7 linked regions of the Homo sapiens genome follow. The protein of the gene in region 4 purifies or fractionates together with the protein of the main gene of each other region. This does not show direct contact. Each region holds a gene or a part of one and is shown on either strand. Other genes may lie near its edges.

Region 1 (3,932 bases), on a different chromosome or scaffold from region 4:
GTACCCGGGCCAGACAAAGTTCTACACCAAGGACAACTAAAGCTACCAGCTCCATTCCCTACAAACAGACACACGGCAGCTGCTCGCGGGGGCCCCTGGCCACCCCTCAGGGTTCACACGCACCGTGCTGGCCCCCCAGGCCACAAGTGACGGTGGCTTTGAAGCAAACATCATGTGCTTCGCAGACAAAACCCCTCCGCCAACCCAGACCTCGCTTTCCTTCTCTACTCCCCCACCCACCCGTGTCCCTTTCAGTCCAGACACCAGAGGAAGGATGTGTGAAAGGAGCCAGGTAGTCAGCCAAGCCCACCCACAGCCCCCAACCACAGCACCTACCTCCAATGACCTCCACGAACTCTGGGCCGGCCATCGCCAGGAAGGGCACCTGAGCCTCCGTGGCCACCGCCTTGGCCAGCAGCGTCTTCCCACAGCCGGGGGGGCCGAGCAGCAGTGCGCCCTTTGGGACCTTGGCGCCAAGCTGGAGGAAGCGTTCTGGGCTCTGGACGGCAGCAGACAATGCAACACTAACTACTTGGGGATTCCGTTTTTTTGTTTTTTAGAGGTAAGGTCTCTCTGGGTCACGCAGGCTGGAGTGCAGTGGGTGCCATGATAGCTCACTGCAGCCTCAAACTCCTGGGTTCAAGCCACCCTCTCACCTCAGCCTCTCGAGTAGCTGGGAATATACAGGCATGTGGCACCACGCCCAGCTACTTTTAAAAACTTCTTGCAGGCCAGGTGCGGTGGCTCACACCTGGAATTCCAACATTTTGGGAGGCTGAGGCAGGCGCGTAGCTTGAGATCAGGAGTTTGAGACCAGCCTGGCCAACATGGAAAAACCCCGTCTCTACTAAAAATACAAAAATTAGCCGTGCATGGTGGTGGGCGCCTGTGATCCCTGCTACTCGGGAGGCTGAGGCAGGAGAATCACTTGAACTGGGGAGGTGGAGGTTGTAGTGAGCCGAGATTGTGCCACTGCACTCCAGCCTGAGTGACAAAGTGAGACTCTGTCTCGAAAAAAAAAATTAATTAAATAAAAAAATGTTTTGCAGAGACAGGGTCTCACTGTTGCCCAGGCTGATCTCCTACTCCTGGGCTCAGTCACTCCCCTGCCTCAGCGCCCCGAGGTGCCAGGACTACAGGCGTGACCCACTGTACCAGGCCTGCAGAGGGAACACATGTCAGCCCCTCGAGGTGCCAGGACTACAGGTGCGACCCACCGTACCAGGCCCGCGGAGGAAACGTGTAAGTGACGCACGTGATAGGCAGCTCATGCACTGCCACCAACTGGCTAAGGTGTTTATGTGGTTCTGGAAAAAGCACAGAGCTTTGCAAGGGATGAAGGGCCCAGGACGGCTAACGGCACAGTAGGCATGGGTCTTGGCAGCCTCTGCTTGGCTGAACCATGTGCACGAGGCTTGTGCTGCTGGTTGAACAGGCACCAGCACCTGCTTGGTGTCCCCATGGGACATGGTAGAGGTCACCGCCAACCCACGACACGTCATCGATGGAATTCCAGGTCCCGCAGGAGCCCTTCTGGGAGAGGAGGACGGCCGGCCTCTGCTCACACCTCCCTCCCGGCCCACGCTGCTTTCACCTTCAGATAATCCACAAACTCGCGGACTTCCAGTTTGGCTTCGTGCATTCCTGCCACGTCTTTGAAGCTGACTCCTTTCCCCATCTTCCCATCCACAATGGTGAAACGAGCCATTTTAAGCTGATTCTGTGCAGAAAGAACAAAGTGCAAGGAGCTGGGCGAAGTCAGGAAATCAGCAGCACGATGCCAGCGCTCAGCCCACGCACCTGAGCCGCCCCAACCCCACGTCTCCATCCTAGGATCCCAAGGCTTCACTCATGTCAGGCTGACGAGGCTCACAGTCAGTCTTCAAGCACAGAAGGGAAATGTTTCGTCATTAATTAGTAAGAAACTTATCTAGCAATTTGCTTTAAAAAAAATTACTCAGCCAGGCATGGTGGCTCACGCCTGTAATCCTAGCACTTTGGGAGGCCGAGATGGGCGGATCACGAGGTCAAGAGATCGAGACCACCCTGGCTAACACGGTGAAACCTGTCTCTACCAAAAATACAAAAAAATTAGCTGGGTGTGGTGGCAGGCACCTGTAGTCACAGCTACTTGGAAGGCTGAAGCAGGAGAATCGCTTGAACCCAGGAGGCAGAGGTTGCAGTGAGCTGAGATCGCACCACTGCACTCCAGCCTGGGCAACAGAGCCAGACTCTGTCACACACACACACACACAAAAAAGAAAGGCCAGGTGCAGTGGCTCATGCCTATAATCCCAGCACTTTGGGAGGCTGAGGCGGGAGGATCACCTGAGGTCGGGAGTTCGAGACCAGCCTGAACAACATGGAGAAACCCCGTCTCTACCAAAAATACAAAATTAGCTGGACGTGGTGGCGCGTGCCTGTAATCCCAGCTACTCGGGAAGCTGAGGCAGGAGAATTGCTTGAATGCGGGAGGTGCAAGTTGCGGTGAGCTGAGATCGCACGGCTGCACTCCAGCCTGGGCAAGAAGGGCGAAACTCCGTCTCAAAAAAAAAGAAAAGAAAAACGCAGATTCAACTGCCCTGTAATCTCACAAGGCTCAGGCACCCCAGAGTTAGGGGTGAGAGGCCCTCAGGCAACATTGGTTACTACACGCCTTACAGCCGGACCATGGGAAAGGAAGGTGAGCTGCTGTCTAATTGTGGCTTCAGGCTACTCTCTGCAACAGGTTTTCCCTGTGTATTCATCGTATAGCTTATGGGAAAAGTATTCAGCAAACACAAACCAGAAAGAGTTCAGAGAGCTCTGATTTACAGAACTTACAAAAGCACTGAATCCACCTTCCCTTCCAGTCATCCCGGCCAGACGGAAAACATACCACAGGATGGCCAGGCCCACTGCCGTCATCCCCACAGAGTACAGGGCACTGCCGGAAGAAAGAGAGGCAGGCACAGGCTCAGACGGTGTCACGTGACAGACGCAGGCTTCCAAATCAGAACCACTGCTGGCAATGTTTCCAAGATGAGACGAGGAATCCCTACGTCTGGGACCGATGCGCAGATTAAAATGGTTGTGGAAATGGGTTCTCTCGTCTCATTCTCGCTGACTGTGCTTTTTCATGAAAGCTTCCCAAATGGTCAGACTGAGTGTGCAGATGCCGGAGATCTAGCCAGCCTTGTGACAATAACAACGTTCAGGTTTTTCTATTTTCAGTATATTTTGTTTTCAAATGTAAGCGATCAGCTTCAATCAGGCAGGCAAGATCAGCCTAAGAGTAAAAAGCAAATCTCAGGCCGGGCGCGGTGGCTCACGCCTGTAATCCTAGCACTTTGGGAGGCCGTGGCGGGTGAATCACAAGGTCAGGAGTTTGAGACCAGCCTGGCCAACATGGTAAAACCCCATATCTACTAAAAAAATACAAAAATTAGCTGGACATGGTGGCATGCGTCTGCAATCCCAGCTACTTGGGAGGCTGAGGCAGGAGAAATGCTTGAACCTAGGAGGTGAAGGCTGCAGTGAGTCAAGATCGTGCCACTGAACTCCAGCCTGAGCTACAGAGCAAGACTCCATCTCAAAAAGAAAAGAAAAATGTAAGAATAAACCCTGTGTCTACTAAAAATACAAAAAAACTTAGCTGGATGTGGTGGTGTGCATCTGTAGTCCCAGCTACTCAGGAGGCTGAGGTGGGAGAATCACTGATCCTGGGAGGTCGAGGCTGCAGTAAGCTGAGATTGCACCACTGCACTCCAGCCTGGGCGACAGAGTGAGACCCTGACTCCAAAAAAAAAAAAAAAAAAAAGCAAATCCCAGGACTTTTGCCCTCATCCTGAGGAGGGGCTGCCCTGGGCCTGCCCCAACCCTCCATCTTCTGTACATCATCAGCCTACAAAGACACGAGAATGGGCCTGCCCCAACCCTCCATCTTCTGTTCT
Region 2 (3,932 bases), on a different chromosome or scaffold from region 4:
GGCTCTCTAACCACCGAGGTGCCCGGGCTGTGGTCTTGCCACATTTCCCAACTCGTGAGGACTAAAGGGCCCGGGTGACTTCGACGCTGGAGGGCCCACTGGTTATGCGTGTGGAGCGCCCTGGGCCAGGCCCTCAAAGGCAGGCAGCATCTCCCCGTGCTGCCCCTCCCACTGTCGCCCCTGGGAAAACCCAGCCACCCGCAGGGAACTGCCCACAGGGAGCCACCCTTCGCTCAGCCCCACACGCTCAGGAAAGCCCCGAATGCCAGGCAGGACCTAGAATGGCTGGACCTACCCACAGGTCTCCAATCTCCCGGATGTTGCTGCGGTACCGCTGGCAGTCATGCAGCACCTGCAGCGCAGGGAATACGGGAGTGGGGGAGTGTCCAGGACCGTGTGGCAGGGCCCTGAGACACGCACTCCCCACCCGAGGCGGGAGGAACAGCCCGGAGCTACGGGGACAGGAACAGGGCCAGAGCCCGCATGTCCGCGGGACAGTGCCCCAGCTCCGGGGAGCAGAGGCAGCAGCTGCTACTCACATTGGGGTGCCCGTCTCGAAGGACCTTGTGGAGGACGTGGCAGAACTTCCAGCTGAGAATGGAGCTGCTGGGCAGCGGCAGCCCAATGGCGTAGGACCAGAAGGTGAAAGCCCCCTTCTCGTGGTGTGTGCCCAGAATGATGCCTGCAATGTCAAGGCCAAGTGTGGAAGCAGAGACTGGAGCACGGGGGCTCAGCAAACCCGGCTGAGAGAGGCCAGGGCCGCCGGAAGAGGGCCGGCCCCCAATCACGTGCCCATCAACCCCGGGTCACCAGAGCTCCAGTGTCCAGCCAAGGGGACAGGAGTTAGGGCAAGACAAGGAAATCATTGGGCCCAATGGGGGCGTTTTTGTGATGAGACTGAGATGGGAAGGAGCCAAGCTGCACAGGACCCTCCTCCCCGGGCTCAGTGAGGGAACTTGTGACCCCGGCACAGCTGACCGCAGGCCACCTGCAGCACTACGCTGCTCCCACATCCACACCCAACTCCTGGGTCCAAGAGCCGGCCAAGGATACGCCGGGCGTGCTTCTCCTTCACGGGGGCCTCCTGGGTGTTGATGGCTTTGCTGATGCTGATGGCCTGTGAGGGACAAAGGAGCAGTGTTTAGAGCCCCAGGCAGCCACCCCAGGAGACACCACCCCAAGGGGGAGAAGCACAATACTGAACAGGATTCTGCCTGGGTTCAAGGCCAGTGGAGCGATGGGGGAGACAGGAATCCCCTCAACCTAAGCTTCTGAAGGACTTCCCTGTGCCTGATCGGTGCAGCTGGAACTACAGTGAACACCAAGAGCTCCAGGAGTCAGGGGACAAGGACCAAAGCTGGGCTATGGCTCCGGGAGGCCATCCTGCCCAAAACCTGCACGACTTGACTCTCCTGGCAGATGTGGTGCCCTGAGCCCCAGGTCATGGCCCAGTGTGGTGTCCTCCGGCCCCATCTCCCCTTGGGGAAAAGCAGCTGAGACTGGAGCCCCCGGCTGGGGCCCACCTGGCCTTTGCGGCACCCCATGAAGGGTGCACATCACATTGTCCCCACTCTCCTGGGAGGCATTCCCAGGAAACTTAGGCAAAGCCCAGGGCCTGTGGCCCACTGCCCCATAGGCTGCCCCTCTCCTGGGTGGGGCCTCACCCTGTCAAACTGTGTCAAGCTCCTGCTGCCACCTGCAGCCCAGCCAGGGGCGGAGGAAGGCAGGAGTGGGGTCTGCAGCTGTCACCCGGAGCTGCGCAAGTGGCACCTTCACACTTGACCAAGGCCAGAATCTCAGCATCCCTCCCGCTCCACCTATGGCAGTCTCACCCCTCCCCCCCCGCCCCGGCTACTGCCTCCTTTTCCGAGTAGGCTTCCTGGACGTGACTGTGCTCTCGAGGAGGGCTCACGGCGGTACCATCACTACAACCCGGCCCTGGCTCCGTGGGGCATGGGGTATTTCTCATGCAGGGAACAGGTCTGCTAAACCTCTGTCCCCCACCACCAATGTTTGTGACCTGAGAAGAGCTGTCCAGGCCATGGGCGGGAGGGACAGGGCCTCGACAGATGCAGACACTGAGATGGGACACGCAGCCCCCAGCCTCAGCCAGGGCAGCTGGGCTCCTGAGCCACAGGCTGGCCTAAGCCAGGCAGGCCTTGAAGGGCAGGGAGCCGGCTTGCAGGACAGTGCAGCGCTCCTGCGCCTTCTCCCCAGACACCACTGCACTCTCCCACCCAACACCGGAGCAGAGGACATCCAATTAGGGTCTACTGTGGAATTTCCTCTGTGAGAAAAGCCAGCCCGGGAAGCTGGGGGGCCCTACCTGGTGGGACCTCAGATGGGAGCTAGGGGACTGCGGGGCTGGGCCAGGCAGCCTCTGGGCCGCCCCCGGCCCCTAGCACGATGCTGACCCCCTTTCACACACAGGGCCCATTGTACTGGACCCTCCCAGGCAGGTGTCCTGGGGCTGCCCTGAGCCCTGCTCCCTGTAGTCGGGGAGGAGCTGCGGTCCCATCTCAAGGAACCACGACCTGAGGAAATGCACAGAGGCTCTGGTGGGCCTGATCCTGAGGGCTGCCCAGCCAGTGGCCCCCAGGCCTCAGCTCCTTCCTTGAACAAACTCGTATCCACCAACTGTGAGAAGCCATGGCTGAGAGTGTCATGCCCCCAGAGGCAGAATATTGCTCACGACAGCAGCTATGATGATAAGGATCCTGAGTGCCCAGCCCCAGCCAGGCATGGGCAACTCGCCTCCCAGCAACAGCCCAGGGAAGTGGTGACTAACCCATTTTCCTGGTGAGGAAACTGAGGCACAGAAGGCTTATATACTTGTCTGTACAGCTAATAAGGATAAAGGCAGTGTTCAAAGCCAGGTCTGTCTGATTCCACAACCTGTGTCCTTAGTGACTCTGAACAGCCCCCAGGCAGTTCCTCCCGTGGGGAGGGGCTCCCAGGGCAGGAGGCAGGGGCTGTGACTTTCCCCAGCTCACTGGCAAGCAGCTGTCCTGTCACAAGCCAGGCGTGTCCGTCTCCGGGGTGTGTAACCCCATCCCCAGCTGCCGACACCTGAGCTGCCACCTGGTTCGGAAGATTCCTGGCAAGAAGGGTGGAGGCGAAGTGACTGGTGCAGACCTGGCACCAGAGAGGCTGTAGACACAGAGATGCGGGGGTTTCTCCTGACACTGAGGAAACCCCGGGATGGGGCTGAGATAGGGACCCTAGAAGCAGAGAACACATTCTGGGGGAATGGGCTGCCCTCTCCTCTTTGCGAGGAAAGACACAGTGAGGCCAAGGTGCAGCCACCCGTGTCCCCAGGCCCTAGGCTCCAGATGCCCACTCAGCAGAGCTCCAGCTCCCCGCACCCGGCACCCTCACACCCTCCTGCAGCCGCCCTGTTGAAATCTGCACCTTCTGGATGGATGGTCTCTGAGGGCCGGGCACCCTCAGACAGTGGAGTGTTTCCTTATTTATCACCCTCTCCCCTCACCCAGCAGTCAGCAACACGAGGGGAAGCAGATCGGCCTATAGGTGCTGCTGAACCCCCAGCTCCTCAACAGTGCCTGGCATGCAAATGACTTTCATGGCAGGAGGGAGGCCCCAGGAATGCAGTGTGACGGGGCATGCCTTGGGCACATGGCATGGTCTCCTGTGCGCCTGGGCCTCAGTGCTGCCTGCTCCCCGCGCTGGCGGCAGGGGACAGGATCCGTGGCAGCAGGGCCCTCCCGGGCAGGGTGCCGGCTGGCTCTGGGAACACAGCCCCGTTGTGTCTAGGATGGGCAGATGTGTGCACCAGGCTCAGAGCGCCACACAAGGAGGCACAGTGCTCGCACAGTGGGAGTCTGTGGCTGCTCCGTGGGCCTCGCCTCTGACCAGGCAGTAGCAGCTAAGCCCTGTCCCGGGAGAAGCCCGCCAGGTCCCAGTGATGTCCC
Region 3 (3,932 bases), on a different chromosome or scaffold from region 4:
CTAAAAAGAAGAAGCAAAGGAAAGTATGATGACAATGTCTTACCAAATAGAGATGGATAAAGAAGTAGAAATTATTTTTTTTAATAATTGGAAATTCCAGAGTTGAAAAGTCAGTAACATAAATGAAAAATTCATTGGAGGGTCCCAACAGTGGATGTGAATTGGCAGAAGGAAGAATCAGTGAATATACAAGACAGTCTGATTATGCAATCAGAGAACAAGAGAGAAAAAACAGTAAGAGAGAAAAAAGAACAGGAGAGAAAAAAGAATAAGGAAAATGAACAGAGTCTCAAATAAATGTGGACATCATTAAGCACACCAGCATACATGAGATGGGAGCACCAAAGTAGAGAAGAGAAAGGAACAGAATGACTATTTAAAGAAATAATTTAAAATTTCCAAAATTTGATGAAAAACATTAACCTACATATCTAAGAAGATCAACAAACTCCAAGTAAGATAAACATAAAGAGATCCATATCCAGGTACATCATAGTAAAATAATGAGAGACAAACGGAAAATCCTGAAAACAACAAGAAACTGCTGATTACATAAGGGAATTCCAATAAGATTAACAGCTGACTTCTCATCAGAAATAATGAAGCCCAGAGGCAGTGGAAAGACATATTCAAACTGCTGGCCGGCGGAGGGGGGGAACCCGTCAACTAAAAATCTTACATATGGTAAAACTATCTTTCAAAAATGAAGATGACATAAAGACATGCCCAGATTTTAAAAAAACAGACAAACAACAACAACAAAAAAAACAGGAAATAGTTTCAAGCAGACCAGCCTTACAAGAAATACAAAAGGAATTTCCTCACGATTAAGAGTGAACTCAGATGACCATTTGATCACACACAGACACACAGACCAGACACACACAGACACACACAAAGAACACCAGTAAAGGTAACTATGTAATTATAAAATACAGTATAAATGCATACTTCTCATTTCTTATCTGATTTGTGGAAGCAGTTGCATAAAACTACATGTACATAATTGTATTGGTGGCATGCAACATATAAAATATATATAGAATATATGTAATACAATGGACAATCACAACACAAAGGATGTATGTGGGAGCAAAGCCATTCTGGAGTAAGAAAATGACACAAGATGACAACTAAAAACCCAGCAACAAATGAAAAGAATCAGAAACAGTAAATAAGAAACTTAATATAACAAACTTTAAAAATACATATTGGTCTCTGTTCTTCTTTCTGCTTCTTTAAAAGACAAAAAATTATAAAAAGTAACAATTATAGTAATGTATTATTGTAATAACACAAAAAAAGGGAAAGAAGGAATATAGCTATATAAGAGTAACATTTCTATACCTTACTGGAAATTAGACTAATTCTGAAGTAGATTCTGAGAGCAACCACTAAGAACTAACTTTTTTCTAAATTCCCAAAAAATCACTAATTAAAATATTACACCAGAAAATATTTGCTTAATGCAAAAGCAGCAGTAAAAAAGGAATAGAGGAGCAAAAAAAAAAAGGAAGAAAGAAATGAGACATAGAACACAAGAAAAACAGCAGATGTGAATCCAACTATGTAAATAATAACATTAAATATGAATAAACAATCAAAAGGCATAGGTTCTCAAATTGGATAAAAATAAGATCCAATGATGTGCTATCTACAAGAGATACACTTTAGATTTAATGACATATTTAAAAGTAAACAGAAAAACATATATCATGAAAAGAGCAACTATAAGAAAGCTGCAGCAGCTATACTAATATCTGACATAACAGACTTTAAAACAAGTCTAGAAATAAAGGATATTTTATGACGGCAAATGGTCAATCAATAAGGAATATATAAAGTATAAACATATATGCATCTAACAACAGAGCCTGAAAAGACATAAAAACTACTCATCATTCAATAATGGATAGAACAACTAAGCAGAAGACCAAAAGGGAATAGGAGACGTGAACAATACTCTAAGCTAATTAGACCTAACAGACCTCTATAGAATACTCCCTCCAACAACAGTAGGATACACAGTCTTCTCAAGGGAACATGGAACATTCTCCAGTACAGACTATGTTAGGCAATAAAATAAGCCTCAATAAACTTAAAATAAACTGAAGTCATACAAATTATTATCTCTGACTGCAATGGGATTAAATTAGAAATTAATAACAGAAGGACATTTTAGAAATTCACAAATATGTTGAAATTAAGCACACTTCTAAATAACCAGTGAAAGAGGAAATAATAAGGAAAACTAAAGATATTTTGAAGAAAGGTAAATGAAAACACACATGCCAAAAAGTTTTAGATGAAGCTAATGCTGTTCTTAGAGAAAAATTTATAGCTGTAAAAACCAATATTAAAAAATAAGAAAGATCTCAAATTAATAACCCAAACTTCCATCGTAAGGTTGGGTTCCATCATAATAAAAAAGAGAGCAACCCAACCCAAAACAAGCAGAAGAAAGAAAGTAATAAAGATTAGATCAGATGTAAATGTAACAGAAAAACAATAGAGAGGCCAGGTGCAGTGGCTCATGCCTGTAATCCCAGAAATTTTGGAGGCAAAGGCAGGCAGATCACCTGAGGTCAGGAGTTCAAGACCAGCCTGGCCAACGTGGCAAACCCTATCTCTACTAAAAATATAAAAATTAGCCAGGCATGGTGGCATGTGCCTGTAATCCCAGCTAGTCGAGAGGCTGAAACAGGAGAATCGCTTGAACCCAGGAGGCGGAGGTTGCAGTGAGCCAAGATCGCGCTACTGCACTCCAGCCTGGGCAACAGAGCAAGACTTCATCTCAAAAAAAAGAAAAAACAAAAACAATAGAGAAAAAAATCAATAAAACAGAGAGTTGGTTCTTTGAAAAGATCAACAAAATTGACAAACCTTTATCTAGAATGACCAAGCAAAAACAAAGACTCAAATTACTAAATTCAAGAACAAAAGAGAGAATGTTACAGAAATAAAAATAAGAAAAAGTTATGAGCAATTATATGTCAACAACTAAAATAATCTAAATGAAACACAACAAATTCCTAGAAAGACACAAACTATCAAAACTAACTCAAGAAAACTAGAAAATCTGAGTATACCTTTAACAAGTAATGAAATGGAATCAGTAATCGAAAACTTCCCAACAAAGAAAATACACATGGCTTAACTGGAAAATTTTACCATATATTTAAAGAATTAACATTAATCATTCACAAGCTCTTCCAAATGTGGAAGAGAAGCGAACACTTCCTAACTCATTCTATAAGGCCAGCATTACCCTGATACCAAAGCCAGATAAAGACATCACCAAAAAAAGAAAATTACAGAGCTGGGCATGGTGGAACATGCCTGTAGTTTCAGATACTCAGGAGGCTGAGGTGGGAGAACTGCATGAGCTCCAGAGTTCAAGACCAGCCTGGGCAATGTAGCAAGATCCTGTCTCAAACATAAATTAAAAAAAAAAATTTTCATGCCAGGCACAGTGGCTCATGCCTATAATTCCAGCTACTCGGGAGGCTAAGGTAGGAGGACTGCTTGAGGCCAGAAGTACAAGATCAGTCTGGGCAACACAGTGAGATTTTGTCTCTAAAAAAATTACAGAAATCCCTCATGAATATAGATGTAGAAATTCTCAATAAAATACTAGCAAACCAAATCCAACAGTATATTAAAGAGGATTATACACTATGGCCAAATGAGATTTATCCTAGGAATGCAAGGGTAATTAAACATGAGGAAATCAATCAATGTAATGTACCACATGAATAGAATAAAGGGGGGAAAAAACCCAAATACTCATCTCAATTGAGAGAGCACCAACTCATTCTATGAGGTATCATTCTCATATCAAAGACATCACACACACACACACAAAAAACAGATCAAAATATCTTATGAATACACATGCAAAAATCCTCAACAAAATACTAGCAAACAGAATC
Region 4 (4,003 bases):
GGCGCCAGCTGCTTTGGGGAGGGATCTCCCTACAGGAAGCCTGGTGCAAACATTAACTTCGCTCCTAAAGCACGGACCAGCCGTTGGAGCCCCCAAATCCAGTAGGGGGTGGACTCATTTTTATTCTACATTTTTCATTGCCTCAGTGTGTCCCTGCCCCCCACCACCCCCTGCCAAGGGTAATGTGTGAACAGCAGAGTTGCAGTGGATTGGGGGGTGGGAGGAGGTTTGTCCAAATGACCCAGGCACACTGCTGTTCATGCCAGGCTCATCCATATAGACATATAAGTACAACACACACAGACAAGAGGCAGGCATCTCCATCCCAAACAACATGATTCTTGGCACCAAGTAGCACCAGTGCCCAAGAAAGAAATCAGTATGATGGGGTAAGATGGGGAGATGAGGAAACCCTTCAGCTCACAGTTATGCAGGAAGTCAGAAACAGGAGGACTCGGGGAGCGAGCCAAGCAGTGTCTGGACTAAATGCAGACACCCCTCCATCCTCTCTCTCTAGTTGCCCTTCCCAACTCCCCACTCACATAATGAAACCAAGGAGTACATCCATTCATCAGCCCTGCTGCCTTCCAATTCTCATAGAAAATAGAGGAAGGATGAAAGGGTCTGCGGACAATTTGGAGAAAGCATATCTAGTCAGTGTCATGGTGCCATGGGGGAACTGCAGGAATCACACTAGCCCCAATGCCCAAAATGACAGGGAAGTGATCCAATTTTAGGGCAAGCTCTGGAGCTCCCAGATCTAAGGGCTGGAGCACTAATTATCTGCTGACACACAGCCCACCCCCGGCCCCAGCCCATTCCCTGCCTCACACTCAGAAAACAGGATAGAAAGCTTAAACAGGGTCAGTCTCTGCAAGCTTTGGGATCCTTAACCCTTAGTAGCCCTTCAGAACAAGAAAGTAGACAGGGGAGAAGGATGGATGGAGGGAGGGGGACGAGCTGTAGGAGGGGATTGGTGCCAGAAGGCAGGGATAAGGAGCGGCAGCTGCAGAGAGTGGTGGGGGAAAAACTACAAGGAAAGAAGGGAGGAAAGACGATTGCAGATCTAAGAAAGCAGCAGAGGGAAACAAGCTTTTACTGCGTCCAGACTCAGGCTTCAACATTTTAGGATCAATATGACTTTCCCCCATTTCATACCAATGGAGAAACTGAGGCTGAGTGAGATTAAATGGCTTGTGCAGGGTCAGGTCTGTAGAGCCCAGTCTCTTTCCCCTAAACCACAAACCTCTGAGAAAGAATAAAGCAGTAGAGGAGGACAGGGCGGGGCAGAATCAGGGGACAGTTAAAGGATGTGCATAGGACAAGGAGTAGCCACACTACCTGATTTTCAGAAAGCAAGGGCAAAGGCCGGGGAGGGCCGAGGGCGCCAGGCTTCTCTCTGCTCCCAGCCCTAGTCAACCACAAGGGTCTCCTGGCTGTAGGGGATGGATTTCTCGTGCATCTGTTCTCCACCCTTGCCCATGTTGGGGCCGGGCCCCTGGCTGTGCCCCGAAGAGTAGCTGGCTGACTTCTCCCCACTGCTGCTGTGGGAGGTGCCTGCGCACCTGCTCTGGCCACAGCAGAGCATGGAGGTGCAGGCCTGGCGGAAGCGGGGGTCGAAAAAGGCATAGAGGAAGGGGTTGAGGCAGCTGTTGACGTAGCTGATGCAGGTGCAGTAGGGGAAGATGTTCATGAGGAAGAGGTCAAAGTCACAGGGCCAGTGCAGCAGGCTGCCCAGCATGTACAGCGTCTTCACCAGGTGGTAGGGCATCCAGCACAGGGCAAAGGTCACCACCAGCACCACGATGATGCTGAGCAGCCGGCGCCGCTTCCGCAGGCCCTCGATGCGTTCCTTGCGGAAGTGGCCAGCGATGGTTTGGGCGATGAAGAAGTAACAGGTCAGCATGATGGTGAAGGGCACCACAAAGCCCACGGTGGTGGACGAGACCCCAAGGCCCACCTCCCAGGCCCACTCTGAGCTCACAGTGGCCACCATGGAGTAGTCCATGTAGCACTGCACCTTAGTGGTGTTCTCCAAGTCCCCGGTGGTGCGTAACACCATGACAGGCATGGCCAGGAGGGCGGCCAGCACCCAAAGAACTGCCGTGGCCACGGCCCCGCTGACCCGCAGCCTCAGCCGAGCATTGGCCACTGGCCTCACGATGGCCAGGTAGCGGTCGAAGCTGAGGCCGGTGAGGCAGAAGACGCTGGCGTACATGTTGACGAAGATGAGGTAGCTGCTGAGCTTGCAGAAGAAGGTCCCAAAGGGCCAGTCATAGTCCCGGTACGTGTAGGTAGCCCACAGGGGCAGCGTCACCACGAAGGTCAGGTCAGCCACCGCCAGGCTAGCAATGAAGATATCAGCTGAGCGCCTCTTCTCCCGGCTGCTCCGAAACACGGTCCAGAGCACCAGACCGTTGCCCGTGGTGCCCAGGAGGAAGACCAACATGTAGATGGCAGGGATGAGGGCCCCCGAGGATTTCCAGTCTGTGTACTCACACTCAGACTGGTTGTCTGCCCCATAGTAGTTGTCAAAATCACCACCTTCCTCCATGCTGGGGAGTGGAGAGAAGACGGGCAGAGGGTCCCAGGGACACCAGCTCCGTGGCTCTGTCACCCACTCTGCAAGCAGCCTGAATTTCTGGCTTGAGCCTCAGAGAGTAAGAAGGGCTGAAGATGCCCAGAGTCCTTCCCAGCACTCAGGAGGAGCTGCCTCTGGGTTCTCCAGACCCTGGAGGAAGCCTGTCTCCTGCAGAATTTCCTCCACCCTCTCTTGCCTTACCCCCGTCTCAGTTAAGACACTTCCTTGCACCCTCCTGCGTCCCTGTCTCCTCCTTGACTCGTCACTCCCTCCTCCCACCTCCAGACCAGCCCCTCTCTTGTGAGTCAAAATCTTTAGTGACAGCCCACTTTTTTTTTCTTTTTGTCACTGAGCAAGTGGACCAAATTGACCCCTACTGTGCTGGGCTGAACATTATCTGTGGTTTTGCAAGTCGGCTTTCCTGGCCCCGCCTCTCCTTTCTGGCTGCCACCCACCTTCACCCCAGCCCCTATCCCTCCACTTTCCTCTGGCCACCACTTCCTGCCTGCCCTTTAGGGCACTCCCTCCTCAGTGCTCTCCGCCCTCCTGTTCTCACCCCCTTCCATCCAATCTAAATGGGACACATTATGCAGATTGCAATCCAGCTTGAGCTGGAGCCAGGGCTGGTAGGGAGCAAGGAGGGTGTAAGATTTCGCAGGATGGGCAGGGCATCTGGCAGGTCCTCCTGGCAGGCAGGTCTGGCCCCCTCGGCTCCCTTCCTGCACCCCCAGCCCCCACCCAGACCAGGTGTCACAGGAGGGTCTTCTCCCACTTTGCCTCTCGCTTCATCTTTCTCTACCCCTTGGCTTTGACCCTCCCTCTGAGAACTTTTGTGGTTTCTAGAGAAATACCCCTACACTAGTGTAGACTGCAGTTTGCAGTTTGCGGAAGGCACAGGATGCTTTAGAAGGTTGAGGGCAGTCACAGGATGGAAGAAACCCAGGACAAAATTATCTCTAAACAAGTCATTAAATCTGTAGGAAACAAAGGCCCAACAAGGTCAATGTTTTGCCCAAGGTAATAAAGTGAATTATGCTACAGTTGATTGTTTGCTTTTCTTCTTCTCCAAACACGAACATAATACAGTACCTGGCATGTCGTAGGTGAATGGCTGTTTTGTTTGTTTGTTTGTTTGTTGAGACAGAGTTTCACTCTTGTTGCCCAGGCTGGTCTAGGCTCACTGCAACTTCTGCCTCCTGGGTTCAAGCGATTCTCCCGCCTCAGCCTCCCTAGTAGCTGGGATTGCAGGCTAATTTTTTTGTATTTTTAGTAGAGATGGGGATTGACCAGGCTAGTCTCAAACTCCTGACCTCAGATGATCCACCCACCTCGGCCTCCCAAAGTGCTGAAATTACAGGCATGAGCCACCACGCCCAGCCAGGTGAATGGCTGTTGAGTGAGTAAGTGGATGGATGATGTAGG
Region 5 (3,932 bases), on a different chromosome or scaffold from region 4:
ACCGCCACAAAGAGGTTGTTCTTCTGGCTCTAAAGGTGCTGAAGTTTTTGGGCTCTGCAGCCTCCTGGCTTAACTCATTGTGGGTGATGGATGCCTGCCAGGTGCTCCAGGGGGCAGGGTCTAGGCCATTTATCTGACAGGAGATACTTCTCCATGGCAAGGATACCCCTCGGGCCAGCCCACCATCCATCAGCCCCCAGAAAGGGTTTTTTTTTCCAGTCAGCAGTTATTGTCATTCCAGCTGTGGCTCATAAATTTTCCGAAGCACTTTCCGCTGGCTCAGGAGCTGCCTGCCTATGGGCCCAGGCAGAGTTCCAAAGGTGGGGGGTTGGGGAGACTGCCAAGGGAGGGGAGGGGTACCGGGAGGGGGCTCAATTTGGAGAGCAAGATTCTTAGAAAAACAGAAGTGCACACACAGCAAGGGCCTACCTAGGGGGTGGTGAAGCCTTGCAGAGGTCTATAGGACTGTGGGGGCCATGGACAAAGGAGAAAATACTACCCTACCTGCCAGACTGTCAGGGCAAATCAGACTGCAGAAAGGGTCAGAGCTTGCAGAGAGCTTTCCTTCCAGTTCACACTTAAAGCATATACAGTTGACTCTCAAATAACAAGAGTTTGAACTGCGTGGGTCCACTTATAGGTAGATTTTCTTCCACCTCCACCACCCCTGAGACAGCAAAACCAACCCCTCCTGTCCCTCCTCCTCAGCCTACTCAATGTGAGAAGATGAGGATGAAGCCCTTTACGATGATCTACTTCCACTTAATGAGTAGAAAATATATTTTGTCTTGCTTATGATTTTCTTAACATTTTCTTGTCTCTAGCTTACTTTATTGTAGGAATACAGTATATGATACATACAACACACAAAATATATGTTAGTCGACTGTTTATGTTAAGGCTTGAGTTAAGGCTTGAGGTCAACGATAGGCTATTAGCAGTCAATTTCTGGGAAAATCAAAAGTTATATTAAAAAGTGGATTTTTGACTGCAAGGGGAGGATTCACTGCCCCTAACCCCTGCATTGTTCAATGGTCAACTGTATCTGCAGACACACACATACATACGCATACTCTCACTCTCTCTCTCTCCTTCTTTCTACAAAGAGGATCCATATTTTCCAATATTCCTTCCACCACCTACTCCAAGCAGATCAAAGGAGTGGTCTCCCAAGGAGAGAGACAATAGAAAACTGTACAAAGACAGCAGCAACACGTACTCATTCAACAAACACTCCCTGAGTGCTTGCTATGTGCGTGGATTGTCCTGGGTGCTGCAGATGACACAGGGATGAGCCAGATGTCTTGGCCAACAGAGCTTTTCCACCTCTAGGGGAAGTCTCAGCAGCACCCACTAAGGAGGAAAAGCAAGGAGACTTTGCCCTGCAGGATGGCTGATGAACAAGGGTAATAATAATGCCACAGCACAAAGTTTGTGAGGATTAGAAGAGATGACACATCGGGCCAGGTGCAGTGGCTCATGCCTGTAATCCCAATACTTTGGGAGGCCGAGGCGGGCAGATCACCTGAGGTCAGGAGTTCGAGACCAGCCTGGCCAACATGGTGAAACCCCATCTCTACTAAAACTACAAAATTAGCCGGTCATGATGGCACATGCATGTAGTCCCAGCTACTCGAGAGGCTGAGGCAGGAGAATCGCTTGAACCTGGGAGGTGGAGGTTGCAGTGAACCAAGATCGCGCCATTGCACTCCAGCCTGGGCGACAGAGCAAGACTCTGTCTCAAAAAAACAAAAAAACAAACAAAAAAAGAAGATATGATACATCTAAAGCACTTAGGATGATGCCTGGCACGGGTCGGGACTCAATAAAGAGTGGAGTTAAATCCTGCTGGGTCCTGGTCTTGTCCATGGCTGCATGTCCCAGATGGCCCTGTGGACAACACCCCTCTGATTAACAGGCTCTGTGTGCCTCATCCTTCTGCACCAAGCACCTCAGGCTCTGCTGATACTGGGTGGCCAGATGTCCACTGAACTCGGGTGGGACTGGAAAGGACTCACAACCTCCAGCAGGTGGGTACTGATGCAGTACGCAGGTCCCCTCTCTCCAGCCACTTCCCTGGAGAGACTGCTTGGCTATGGCTCACTACTGTTTCCATCAGGCCACAGTCAGAGGGATTTAACTGGCAAGTCTGATTCCTCACTCCCTTTCCGTGGCTATGCTCCCAGGATACAGCCGCACTCTTTTTCTTTTCTTTTTTTTTTTTTTTTTTTTTTTGAGACGGAGCCTTGTTCTGTCACCCAGGCTGGAGTGCAGTGGCATGATCTCGGCTCACTGCAACCTCTGCCTCCCGGGTTCAGGCGATTCTCCTGCCTCAGCCTCCCGAGTAGCTGGGACTACAGGTGCGCACCACCACGCCTGGCTAATTTTTGTATTTTTAGTAGAGATGGGGTTTCACCATATTGGCCAGGCTGGTCTCGAACTCCTGAACTCATGATCCACCTGCCTCGGCCTCCCAAAGTGCTGGGATTACAGGCATGAGCCACCTCGCCCGGCCCCAGCCGCACTCTTTTTCTCAGCGTCAGGGCTTTGTCAACCTCATTGATCTCCTCTCACTCTAGGACCCTGACAGATGGTCCTGCTGCCAGTTCCCTAGCCAGTGAGGCACTATTTCACCTCCCAGACTCTGCACAAGCTGTTCCCTTTGCCTGCACACCCTTCCCCCGGCTTCACTCTTCCTTTGGGTCTCAGCTTAGGGTTTCGGCTTAGCCATCGCTTCCTCTGGGAAGTCACTCCTTTCTGCTGCTTCCACGTCTCCATCGAGCACTTACCACTCTGGCCGTCAGTACCCGACTCGCGCTTCTAGTCCACACTGGACTGTGAGCTCCAGGAGGGCAGAAATTTGGTCTGACTTGGCCACTAGCGGACTCTACGCCTGATGTGGAGTTCAGTATGTTGGGGTGGGGCCCAGGCACCTGCATTTTTAACAAGCACCTTGATTCTGATGCCTCCTGACTCAGGGTCTAGTGCCACGTCTCGCACACCACTGAGTGGGCGCTCAGTGTTTGTTGAATGACTGCATGATTTCTGCCCATAAAATAAGGTGACTGACGGATGGTACTTTTCCCTAGGGGAAGTAAGGCTGCTTGCTAATTAGAACCCAGATAGCGGAGTAACCCAGGTCCTCTTAGAGGTTCCAGTGGTGGTTGGAATTACCCGGGCCGTGCCCCTACCTCCGGGGGGATGCTGTCCTCCAGTGGTGGTTGGAATTACCCGGGCTGCGCCCCTACCTCCGGGGGGATGCTGTCCTCCGAGTCGGAGCTGTCCTCATAGACGCCGCCGCTGCTGCCACCGCCCTCCAGGTTCATCTGCAGCAGCTGGTCGATGGTGGCGTCCACAGCGCCGCTGTTGGCGCGCAGCACGCATTCGATGATGTCGTAATCCATGTTGGGGAACATGGTCTTGAAGTCGTCCATGGCCTGGTTGAACTCCAGGCGGCGCACCTGGCGGGCAGGCCGGCTGTTGTTGAGCTCCTGGGGGGCGGCCGTGCCTCCCCCGCCCCCGCGTGCCCCGGCGGTGCCACCCCCGCCGCTGCCGCTGCTGCTCCGGCGGAACAGGCTGGTCATTTTGCGGAGCCGCTTGGGGAAAATGTTTCTAGCCGGCCGCAAAGCCCCTTCCCCAGGGTCTTTCCGCCGTCAGCCGCTTACTTGCCCTGCGGTCTCGGGCAGCTCACTCCTGCGCCTCCTCCTCCCCGGGTAGCCAGGCAGCAATGGGCTGCCAAGAGCTCCGGGTTAGGAGAGTACGGGCGCGGGGCCCCAGGCAGCCCTTGGAGAGCGGTCCTCGCGGGGCGGTGGCATGCGGGACCGGGCCGTGCTGGGGCTGGGCGGCCGGTCATCCACACCCCCGGTGCATCCTGGCACCGGTTTCACGGATGGTCCCACCTGAAACCGAAAGAGATGGAGTCAGGGCCGAGG
Region 6 (3,932 bases), on a different chromosome or scaffold from region 4:
TGGCCTCTCCCGGCAGGATCCCCCAGTCCGTACGGATCCTGGGCAGCCTGGTGGCCATCCTGCTGGTGTTTCTGATCACTGCCATCCTGGTGAAGGTGCAGCTGGATGCTCTGCCCTTCTTTGTCATCACCATGATCAAGATCGTGCTCATTAATTGTAAGCTGGGCCAGGAGGGGGCCTATGGGAGGAGGCATGCCCAACTACCCCCACTCTTTTTTCAGACCCAGCGTTAGCCAGAGAGAAGCCCAGCCTCCGCCTGGAGGGAGTGGATGCTGTGAGCAGCTGGGATTCAGAGGCCTGAGTGGGCCTGGACCAGGGCTGGGAGGGGGCAGAGAGAAGGGCAGCTCAGCCTCAAGGCTCACCAAGAGTAAAGTAGGAATGACAGGGATCTGTCTTCTTGGGCACCCCCAACCACCAGCCCTAGCTCCCCTGCTCATGCCCGCCCTGTTTCCCCAGCATTTGGTGCCATCCTGCAGGGCAGCCTGTTTGGTCTGGCTGGCCTTCTGCCTGCCAGCTACACGGCCCCCATCATGAGTGGCCAGGGCCTAGCAGGCTTCTTTGCCTCCGTGGCCATGATCTGCGCTATTGCCAGTAAGTCCGGCTATCTACCTGCCCAGTGCCCTGGTGTGGTGGGGAGAGGGGATGGGGCCTGTCTCTGATCACTGACACCACCCCAGGTGGCTCGGAGCTATCAGAAAGTGCCTTCGGCTACTTTATCACAGCCTGTGCTGTTATCATTTTGACCATCATCTGTTACCTGGGCCTGCCCCGCCTGGTGAGTAAATGGAGGGAGCTGGGGTTTGGGGTATAGGGGTCTGGGGTTCCAGACCACGGGTGTTCTGAGGACAAAACCTGAAGGAGGCCGGGATTCTGGAGATTCTGCCTCTAAATCCACCTCCCCCGTCTCCCTTACTTGATAGGAATTCTACCGCTACTACCAGCAGCTCAAGCTTGAAGGACCCGGGGAGCAGGAGACCAAGTTGGACCTCATTAGCAAAGGTCCGAAGAGCCTGAGGAAGCTGGGGTGGAGGATGGTATACCAGGCGGGGGATAGCATGAGCAAAGAGAACAAAGATGAGTGCCCTGTGTTAGCTAGCAGCCCTGAGCCAGAGGAGGACTGAAGGACTACAGCAGGGAGAGGGGGACAATAGGAAATAAGGGCCGGCAATGATAAAATGGGGGCAGATCCTGGATGACCTTGAATGCCTGAGGTGTTTGGACTAAAGGCAGTGGGAAGCAATTTCAGATTCTTGAGTGAGGAGTAACATGACCTGAGGCTCCTGGGAGAGGCCAGGCCCCCGGGTCTTGAGTTGTAGGGATTTGGAGGCGAGGTCTGGGTTAGGGTTAGAGTACGGCTGGGACTGGTTAAGGAGGCGTCTACTTTCAAGTAATCCCAGCCGTTTTGGGGAATGTTTATGTTGTCTTCTGTTGCTCTGTCTTCCCCACAACTTGGAGATTTCTTCCATCCCGCAGGAGAGGAGCCAAGAGCAGGCAAAGAGGAATCTGGAGTTTCAGTCTCCAACTCTCAGCCCACCAATGAAAGCCACTCTATCAAAGCCATCCTGAAAAATGTACGTAGGGGAGGTTATCCTATCTTCTACCCCTTGTCCTCTTTCTCTCCTCCTTTTGCTCCCTCCCCCTGCCACCCATCTCCTCCCTTTCTGACCTGAGAGTGGTCACTCCTGGATTCTTTTGTGTGTGCGTGCGTGCCCATGCGTGCGTGCCGGGGGTGGGGATTCGTGGTTCCTTTTTTTTGAGACAGAGTTTCACACTTGTTGCCCAGGCTGGAGTGCAATGGTGCAATCTCCACTCGCTGCAACCTCCATCTCCTGGGTTCAAGTGATTCTCCTGCCTCAGCCTCCCAAGTAGCTGAGATTACAGGCATATGCCACCATGCCCGGCTAATTTTTTGTATTTAGTAGAGATGGGGTTTCACCAGGTCAAGCTGGTCTCAAACTCCTGACCTCAGGTGATCCACCCACCTCGGCCTCCCAAAGTGCTGAGATTACAGGCGTGAGCCACCACGCCTGGCCTGGATTCGTGGTTCTTTAATGCACAGCCACCATGAAGACACAGGCATTTGGGTGACTCTACCCCTTCTATCTAGATCTCAGTCCTGGCTTTCTCTGTCTGCTTCATCTTCACTATCACCATTGGGATGTTTCCAGCCGTGACTGTTGAGGTCAAGTCCAGCATCGCAGGCAGCAGCACCTGGGGTGAGGATGCCACAGGTTTCCAGGATGGGAACAGACAGGATCTTGAGTTGGGCTGGAAGTGGGGAAGGGAGGGAGCCTGGGTCACCTTCTCCCCGTTTCCTGGGTCCATTTGCCCTTCCCTGGGCTGGAAGCATCTTCTCCATTTTACTGTTGGGGAAGCTGAGGCCCAGTGAAGGTTAGGCTTGCTATACCTGCCTCTGTGAGCCTGATAACCACCCGTTCATCTCCTCTTCCAGAACGTTACTTCATTCCTGTGTCCTGTTTCTTGACTTTCAATATCTTTGACTGGTTGGGCCGGAGCCTCACAGCTGTATTCATGTGGGTAAGTGGAGGAAGAGGGCCCCAGGCCCCTGTGGGAAGTAAGAGTCCAGCCTGGACCCAGAGAGGGAACCCAAGAAAGTATGGTAGTAAGGGGACCATTTGTTTTAAAGTCGAGGCATAATTTATGTATAGTTAAGTACAAGTCTTAAGTGTACAACTTAATGAATATATGTATATACACATACCTGCCCAGATCGAGATGTAGAATATTTCCAGCACTCCAGAAGGCTCCACCATGCCCCTTTCAAGAGTAACCCCCTAAGGAGAACCAGGCTTTGAGGTTTCAGTTCAGATCCTGAGGGGCCCCAGATGGATCCTTGGGGGCCTGGCTGTGCCCTGGGGTGGCGGCCTGGGCTGAGGCCCTGCCTGGTGCCCACAGCCTGGGAAGGACAGCCGCTGGCTGCCAAGCCTGGTGCTGGCCCGGCTGGTGTTTGTGCCACTGCTGCTGCTGTGCAACATTAAGCCCCGCCGCTACCTGACTGTGGTCTTCGAGCACGATGCCTGGTTCATCTTCTTCATGGCTGCCTTTGCCTTCTCCAACGGCTACCTCGCCAGCCTCTGCATGTGCTTCGGGCCCAAGTGAGTAGGGCTGGCAGGGAACTTGGTGGCATCAGACAGGATCTAGAGTTCCAGTGGGGGACACTCAGTAGAGGGAGGGCAAAAGGAGAGTCCCTGCTCCCAGAGCTGAGAGGAGAGATGGCTCAGGAGGGGCTCCCAGGCTGAGGGGATAGTGACTGTAGTGGAGGGGGGCGCCAAGCTTACTTGGGTGGAGGTGGAGACAGGTTTGCAGGAAGGAGTGAAAGACAACCCCACCATACACGTTCCCTCAAGGAGGAGAAGCCAGGTTGGGGTTAGGCAGCCAGGATGGGTTGATCAACAGAATGAGGTTCGACAGTCAAGTTGCTCCACCCCACCCCTCCTTCCACCCAGAGGCTCTGGGCTGGGGTACAGCCATTCTGAGGTAGCCTTGCCCTTCCTTCCCCGCTTAGGAAAGTGAAGCCAGCTGAGGCAGAGACCGCAGGAGCCATCATGGCCTTCTTCCTGTGTCTGGGTCTGGCACTGGGGGCTGTTTTCTCCTTCCTGTTCCGGGCAATTGTGTGACAAAGGATGGACAGAAGGACTGCCTGCCTCCCTCCCTGTCTGCCTCCTGCCCCTTCCTTCTGCCAGGGGTGATCCTGAGTGGTCTGGCGGTTTTTTCTTCTAACTGACTTCTGCTTTCCACGGCGTGTGCTGGGCCCGGATCTCCAGGCCCTGGGGAGGGAGCCTCTGGACGGACAGTGGGGACATTGTGGGTTTGGGGCTCAGAGTCGAGGGACGGGGTGTAGCCTCGGCATTTGCTTGAGTTTCTCCACTCTTGGCTCTGACTGATCCCTGCTTGTGCAGGCCAGTGGAGGC
Region 7 (3,932 bases), on a different chromosome or scaffold from region 4:
AACAGAGTTCAGATGAATATGATCACAAAGTCAAGCCTCGTTTAAAATACTATGAAGCTCTCTTTATTGCTGCACATGAAACATTAGGCCTAGATTTAGGGGAAAGAATTGGCAGTCTTGAACTCTTTGTCATTTGTTTAGCAAATATTTGTTTGACATCTCTGGTACGCTAATCCCTGTGCTGGAATATGTTGATGCAGATGCAGGAGCCACAGTCACCACCCTTCGAAATCTTACAGAAGAGCACACAACAGGCCCATTAACAAAGGGAGCATGTGAGCAAACAGCTACAGGTCACTGCAAGGTGAGGGTAGAGGAAGGAGAATAGACCTCAGGCTCTAGTGCTCAAGGGAGTAATCATGAAGAAAATAGAATTTTAACTGAACTTTGAAGGATAGATAGGATTTTGAGAGCTGGAGATGGGGGTACATAGGTGCAGAGGGCATTCTAGTTGAAAAGAATAAAACAGTGGTCACTGCCAACACTTATGTTTAATCCTATGAACCACATTGGGTGAGACAGGCATTATGTACTTCATGGTGGGAGCCTTATGTTTATCCCATTTGAGGACTGAGAAAACTGAAGTTTAAAATGTTGGAATACCTTAGCTAAGGTCACCTAGCAAAACGTGAAAAAGCTAGGGTTTAATGGGCTAATGCCCAAACCCATGCTCTTTCCCCTTGGCTACTGTGTAGCGGTTAAGGAAGGGCATGTTTGGAGAATGGGAAGAGGTCCAATTTGTGTGCACGTAGGGGAGAAGTGAAAGATAAGCTTGGGACCACGTTGTGGAAGACTAAATACCTGGACACTGCACCTAGGATTCAGGGTTTCATTCTGAAGGCAATGATGACTCACTGGAGGGTTTTAAATATGGAAATATGGAATTCAGTGGTTTGAGGGGCACAGCGGCCCCAGTGGAAGTGTGGTAGGTGTGAGTAGCAGTGGAGGGAGTGTTGCATTGAAGCATGACAGAGCTCCTACAGGGAACCTCAACAGGTGGAAGAGGAATGGTGGGCCTAGGTCAAGTGGAGTGGCACCGAGTGAGCAGCTTCTTGTGTGTATACCTGGTTTATGCTTCAGGAGTGAAAAAAGTTCACCACCCAATACTGAGGTTTGAGTTCTTTAACTAAACTCCAAAGACAACAGGTGTTTTATACATGGATTCCCCTGCCCCATTTATGGGTGGGGAGAGGGCAAATGGAACGTTAGGTTAACTAGTTTAAAGAGTCAAGGCAATCCCACCTGGATCCCTTCTTAAAAAGGAAGCCTGTGTCCAAGAGTCCCTTCTGCTGAGTTAACAAGACCCCTTCAACCCGTTCTCATCTTTGGGATTGAGGCGCCTGCAGAATTACAAGAGAGGATTTGTCCTCCTCTTCTCCAGAGAGCTACCTTGATTTTCCCCACCCCTGCCAAGATAGACATTCATGAATGCAGTCATCCACACCTCCACAAGTGCACACACACCAGCCATCCTATTTTAAAACAGACAAAAGCAAAACCAACCCAGGATGTCTCTGGACACCATAAACCAAAATAGTCGCTGGAAAAAACAGTGATGGTAGGTTCCAGATTTAAGATTCATAAAATGGTAACATTTCCAAAAATATCTCTGATGAAGACAGTCATATGTTAGTACGTTTTTAATTTTGCCAAGAGAGGCTGCTGTTTTAAAAAAGAGGATCTTTTACATTGCACGAATTTATCTTCATGAAAACCTTACTGCGTTGTCCTTATTTTTCTTATTCGCGGTTGTCCCACAAACATTTCATCAAGAAGCACCAGTTTCCTTTCTGTACCCTCAAGCCACAGGAGGTAGTTCCTTGGTTCCCTCCTGGGGTAGAAAGAAGGGCAGCAAAAAGAGCACTGTGCTAAGCTGGCCCTTCCCTCTCCACCCCAGGTCTCAAGAGTGCATGCCAGCTTCCTCCCCCGACCTCCAACGCACTTTGGATTCAGACTTTGTGTCTTGCTTCTTAGGACTTCTGATCAGCCTGCATGGATCCTGCTTGACTGGCCATGACTTTAGAGAGTAGTAGAAGACAGAAAAGTTAATACACCTTCTAATGAATTACCATGTGGGTACTGATCTTTCAAAGATAGTATAGAATAGTTTGTTGTGTGGTCTGTTTTTAAAGTCTGTTAACATGAAGCTACAGAAATTTGGAACAGACCCTTTAGAGATAATTTAGTCCAACCTCATCATTTTATAGTAAAAACAACAAAAGCCCACAGGAATTAGCTGGCTTGCCCCAGGTGCTGGGCCTGGCACTCAAGCCTTCCTCCTAATTCCATGGCTCTTCATCATGAACTGATGCTTCTCCCATGCTAAATCCTTGTGCTCTTCTTTGGCCATGAAAAGCCTGTTAACTCTCAGTGCTTTTTTATGTGTAGAAGGTGACAAAGCAGAAGGAAAATGGCAAGAAGAAAGATAACCAAAGAAAAATCAGATAGAAGGCAGGATACCCAGCGTGAGTGCAGCGGCTACACCCATTTTTTGCCATTTATTTCTGATGTCAGACCAGGTGGAAATATCACAAGGTGTCTTCAGATCCTTGTAATCACCTCTTGTTCCCTGGGGGGGAATCTGTGTTGCTCGCCAAGCTAAACTCTTGTGTTCAAGGACAGGGAACACAAGAATTGGGGTGCAGACTCTACATCACAGCCCTGCAGTTATCACGGGCCCATTGAGGGGAGGGGCCCGTGATAACTGCTGGGCTGTGATGTAGAGCCTGTACCCCAGTTCTGGGGTCCTCTCTGTGACAGCATAGTGCCTACTGTGCTGCAAGTGATTCTGAGGCATGGGCACTTGTGAAGCCTTCAGTTTGTGAAGCCTAATTCATGGATCCGGAGGATTGTACATACAACAACAGGAAATAATGAAGATAAAGTTGGACTAAATTATCCCTGAGCCTACAGCAGTGGTTCTCAAAGTATGGTTTCCACATCAGCAGCATCAGTATCACCTGGACCTTGTTAGACATACAAATTCTAGGCCCCCAGACCTACTGGAACAGAAACACCCCCAGGGACCCATGTTTTACTAACTCACCCCTCAGGTAATTCTGGTGCTGCACACTCAAGTTTGAGGAGCACTGGCTTAGGGAAAGCAGCCAGAGGCTTCTGTGGGGCAGAGCAGGGAGCCTGTGATTGGCTTGGTCTGGGCACTTGTGCTAGGACCAAGGGGGTGACGGGCTGAGGGTTCTGCAGAGAAGCAGCGTGGTAAAGGAAGGTCTCTGAGGGCAGCAGCCTGGGAGTGACTTTTAAGCCCACCCCTTAGGAAATTGAGACTCAAGTCATTAAAGCTTTCCTTTTGTTTACACTTGCCTACAATTGTTTTTTCTCAGAGCAAACTTGGCTCAGCACAGCCCAAGGTAAATTATCACAGATTCTGCAACTAATAAAGTTCAATGAGGACTTTACATGGCTCAGATGCTGTTGGTGACTGGCTCTTTCTTCTTTTTTAGTTAGTAACAGGAGTATGGGAAGGCAAATACAACTTCTTCTGTCAGGGCACACGCACCGCAGGAGAATCAGATATGAAGGTACTGTCTCTTTTTCAGAAACTTTATTATTATAAGTGTTGAGTTTTTAAAAATAAATTGTATAAAATACAAAATGGCCCATAACCTCACTGCCCAGGCAATCCCTGTTGATATTTTTAAAAGAATAAAAAAGGCAATATATACACATCAAATTAAAATTTGAATGTGAAAGGTATAAAATAAAACCTAAAGCATCCCCCTCTGTAAAAATAACTCCGGTTAACAATTGGCAGGAAAAATCACATGCAGTCAGTATGTTATATTTACACAATCAGGATCATAAGAGCAATGTCTTAAATTTTTAAAATCATTCATCCAAGTACTTTTTTCCGAGTAGTGGTGTTAAAAATAAAATCTGACTTCCACTCATGAGGTTTGTTTTAAATCACAGGC

The links.
Region 1: the proteins of APLNR (region 4) and SPG7 purify together in Homo sapiens (affinity purification with mass spectrometry; 2 studies listed by BioGRID and IntAct, with this or other methods). This does not show direct contact.
Region 2: the proteins of APLNR (region 4) and HIP1R purify together in Homo sapiens (affinity purification with mass spectrometry; 2 studies listed by BioGRID and IntAct, with this or other methods). This does not show direct contact.
Region 3: the proteins of APLNR (region 4) and EXOC6 purify together in Homo sapiens (affinity purification with mass spectrometry; 2 studies listed by BioGRID and IntAct, with this or other methods). This does not show direct contact.
Region 5: the proteins of APLNR (region 4) and CUEDC1 purify together in Homo sapiens (co-immunoprecipitation; 2 studies listed by BioGRID and IntAct, with this or other methods). This does not show direct contact.
Region 6: the proteins of APLNR (region 4) and SLC29A1 purify together in Homo sapiens (affinity purification with mass spectrometry; 2 studies listed by BioGRID and IntAct, with this or other methods). This does not show direct contact.
Region 7: the proteins of APLNR (region 4) and ELOVL5 purify together in Homo sapiens (affinity purification with mass spectrometry; 2 studies listed by BioGRID and IntAct, with this or other methods). This does not show direct contact.

The regions. Positions count from the first base shown.
Region 1 is NC_000016.10:89,528,471-89,532,402, reverse strand, and holds part of SPG7 (mitochondrial inner membrane m-AAA protease component paraplegin isoform 1 precursor), read right to left. Parts: intron 2,927-3,932; coding exon 2,824-2,926; intron 1,721-2,823; coding exon 1,595-1,720; intron 500-1,594; coding exon 337-499; intron 1-336. UniProt on the Homo sapiens protein: Catalytic component of the m-AAA protease, a protease that plays a key role in proteostasis of inner mitochondrial membrane proteins, and which is essential for axonal and neuron development.
Region 2 is NC_000012.12:122,845,216-122,849,147, reverse strand, and holds part of HIP1R (huntingtin-interacting protein 1-related protein), read right to left. Parts: intron 1,118-3,932; coding exon 1,054-1,117; intron 683-1,053; coding exon 540-682; intron 353-539; coding exon 296-352; intron 1-295. UniProt on the Homo sapiens protein: Component of clathrin-coated pits and vesicles, that may link the endocytic machinery to the actin cytoskeleton. Binds 3-phosphoinositides (via ENTH domain).
Region 3 is NC_000010.11:92,854,747-92,858,678, reverse strand, and holds part of EXOC6 (exocyst complex component 6), read right to left. Parts: intron 1-3,932. UniProt on the Homo sapiens protein: Component of the exocyst complex involved in the docking of exocytic vesicles with fusion sites on the plasma membrane.
Region 4 is NC_000011.10:57,234,451-57,238,453, forward strand, and holds the start of APLNR (apelin receptor), read right to left. Parts: upstream 2,801-4,003; 5' UTR 2,555-2,800; coding exon 1,412-2,554; 3' UTR 1-1,411. UniProt on the Homo sapiens protein: G protein-coupled receptor for peptide hormones apelin (APLN) and apelin receptor early endogenous ligand (APELA/ELA), that plays a role in the regulation of normal cardiovascular function and fluid homeostasis.
Region 5 is NC_000017.11:57,881,981-57,885,912, forward strand, and holds part of CUEDC1 (CUE domain-containing protein 1), read right to left. Parts: intron 3,900-3,932; 5' UTR 3,585-3,899; coding exon 3,249-3,584; exon of another isoform or gene 3,192-3,248; intron 1-3,191.
Region 6 is NC_000006.12:44,229,891-44,233,822, forward strand, and holds part of SLC29A1 (equilibrative nucleoside transporter 1), read left to right. Parts: intron 1-16; coding exon 17-156; intron 157-456; coding exon 457-591; intron 592-677; coding exon 678-775; intron 776-920; coding exon 921-999; intron 1,000-1,473; coding exon 1,474-1,571; intron 1,572-2,107; coding exon 2,108-2,216; intron 2,217-2,452; coding exon 2,453-2,538; intron 2,539-2,916; coding exon 2,917-3,116; intron 3,117-3,526; coding exon 3,527-3,638; 3' UTR 3,639-3,932. UniProt on the Homo sapiens protein: Uniporter involved in the facilitative transport of nucleosides and nucleobases, and contributes to maintaining their cellular homeostasis. Functions as a Na(+)-independent transporter.
Region 7 is NC_000006.12:53,275,786-53,279,717, reverse strand, and holds part of ELOVL5 (very long chain fatty acid elongase 5), read left to right. Parts: intron 1-2,646; exon of another isoform or gene 2,647-2,725; intron 2,726-3,461; coding exon 3,462-3,539; intron 3,540-3,932. UniProt on the Homo sapiens protein: Catalyzes the first and rate-limiting reaction of the four reactions that constitute the long-chain fatty acids elongation cycle.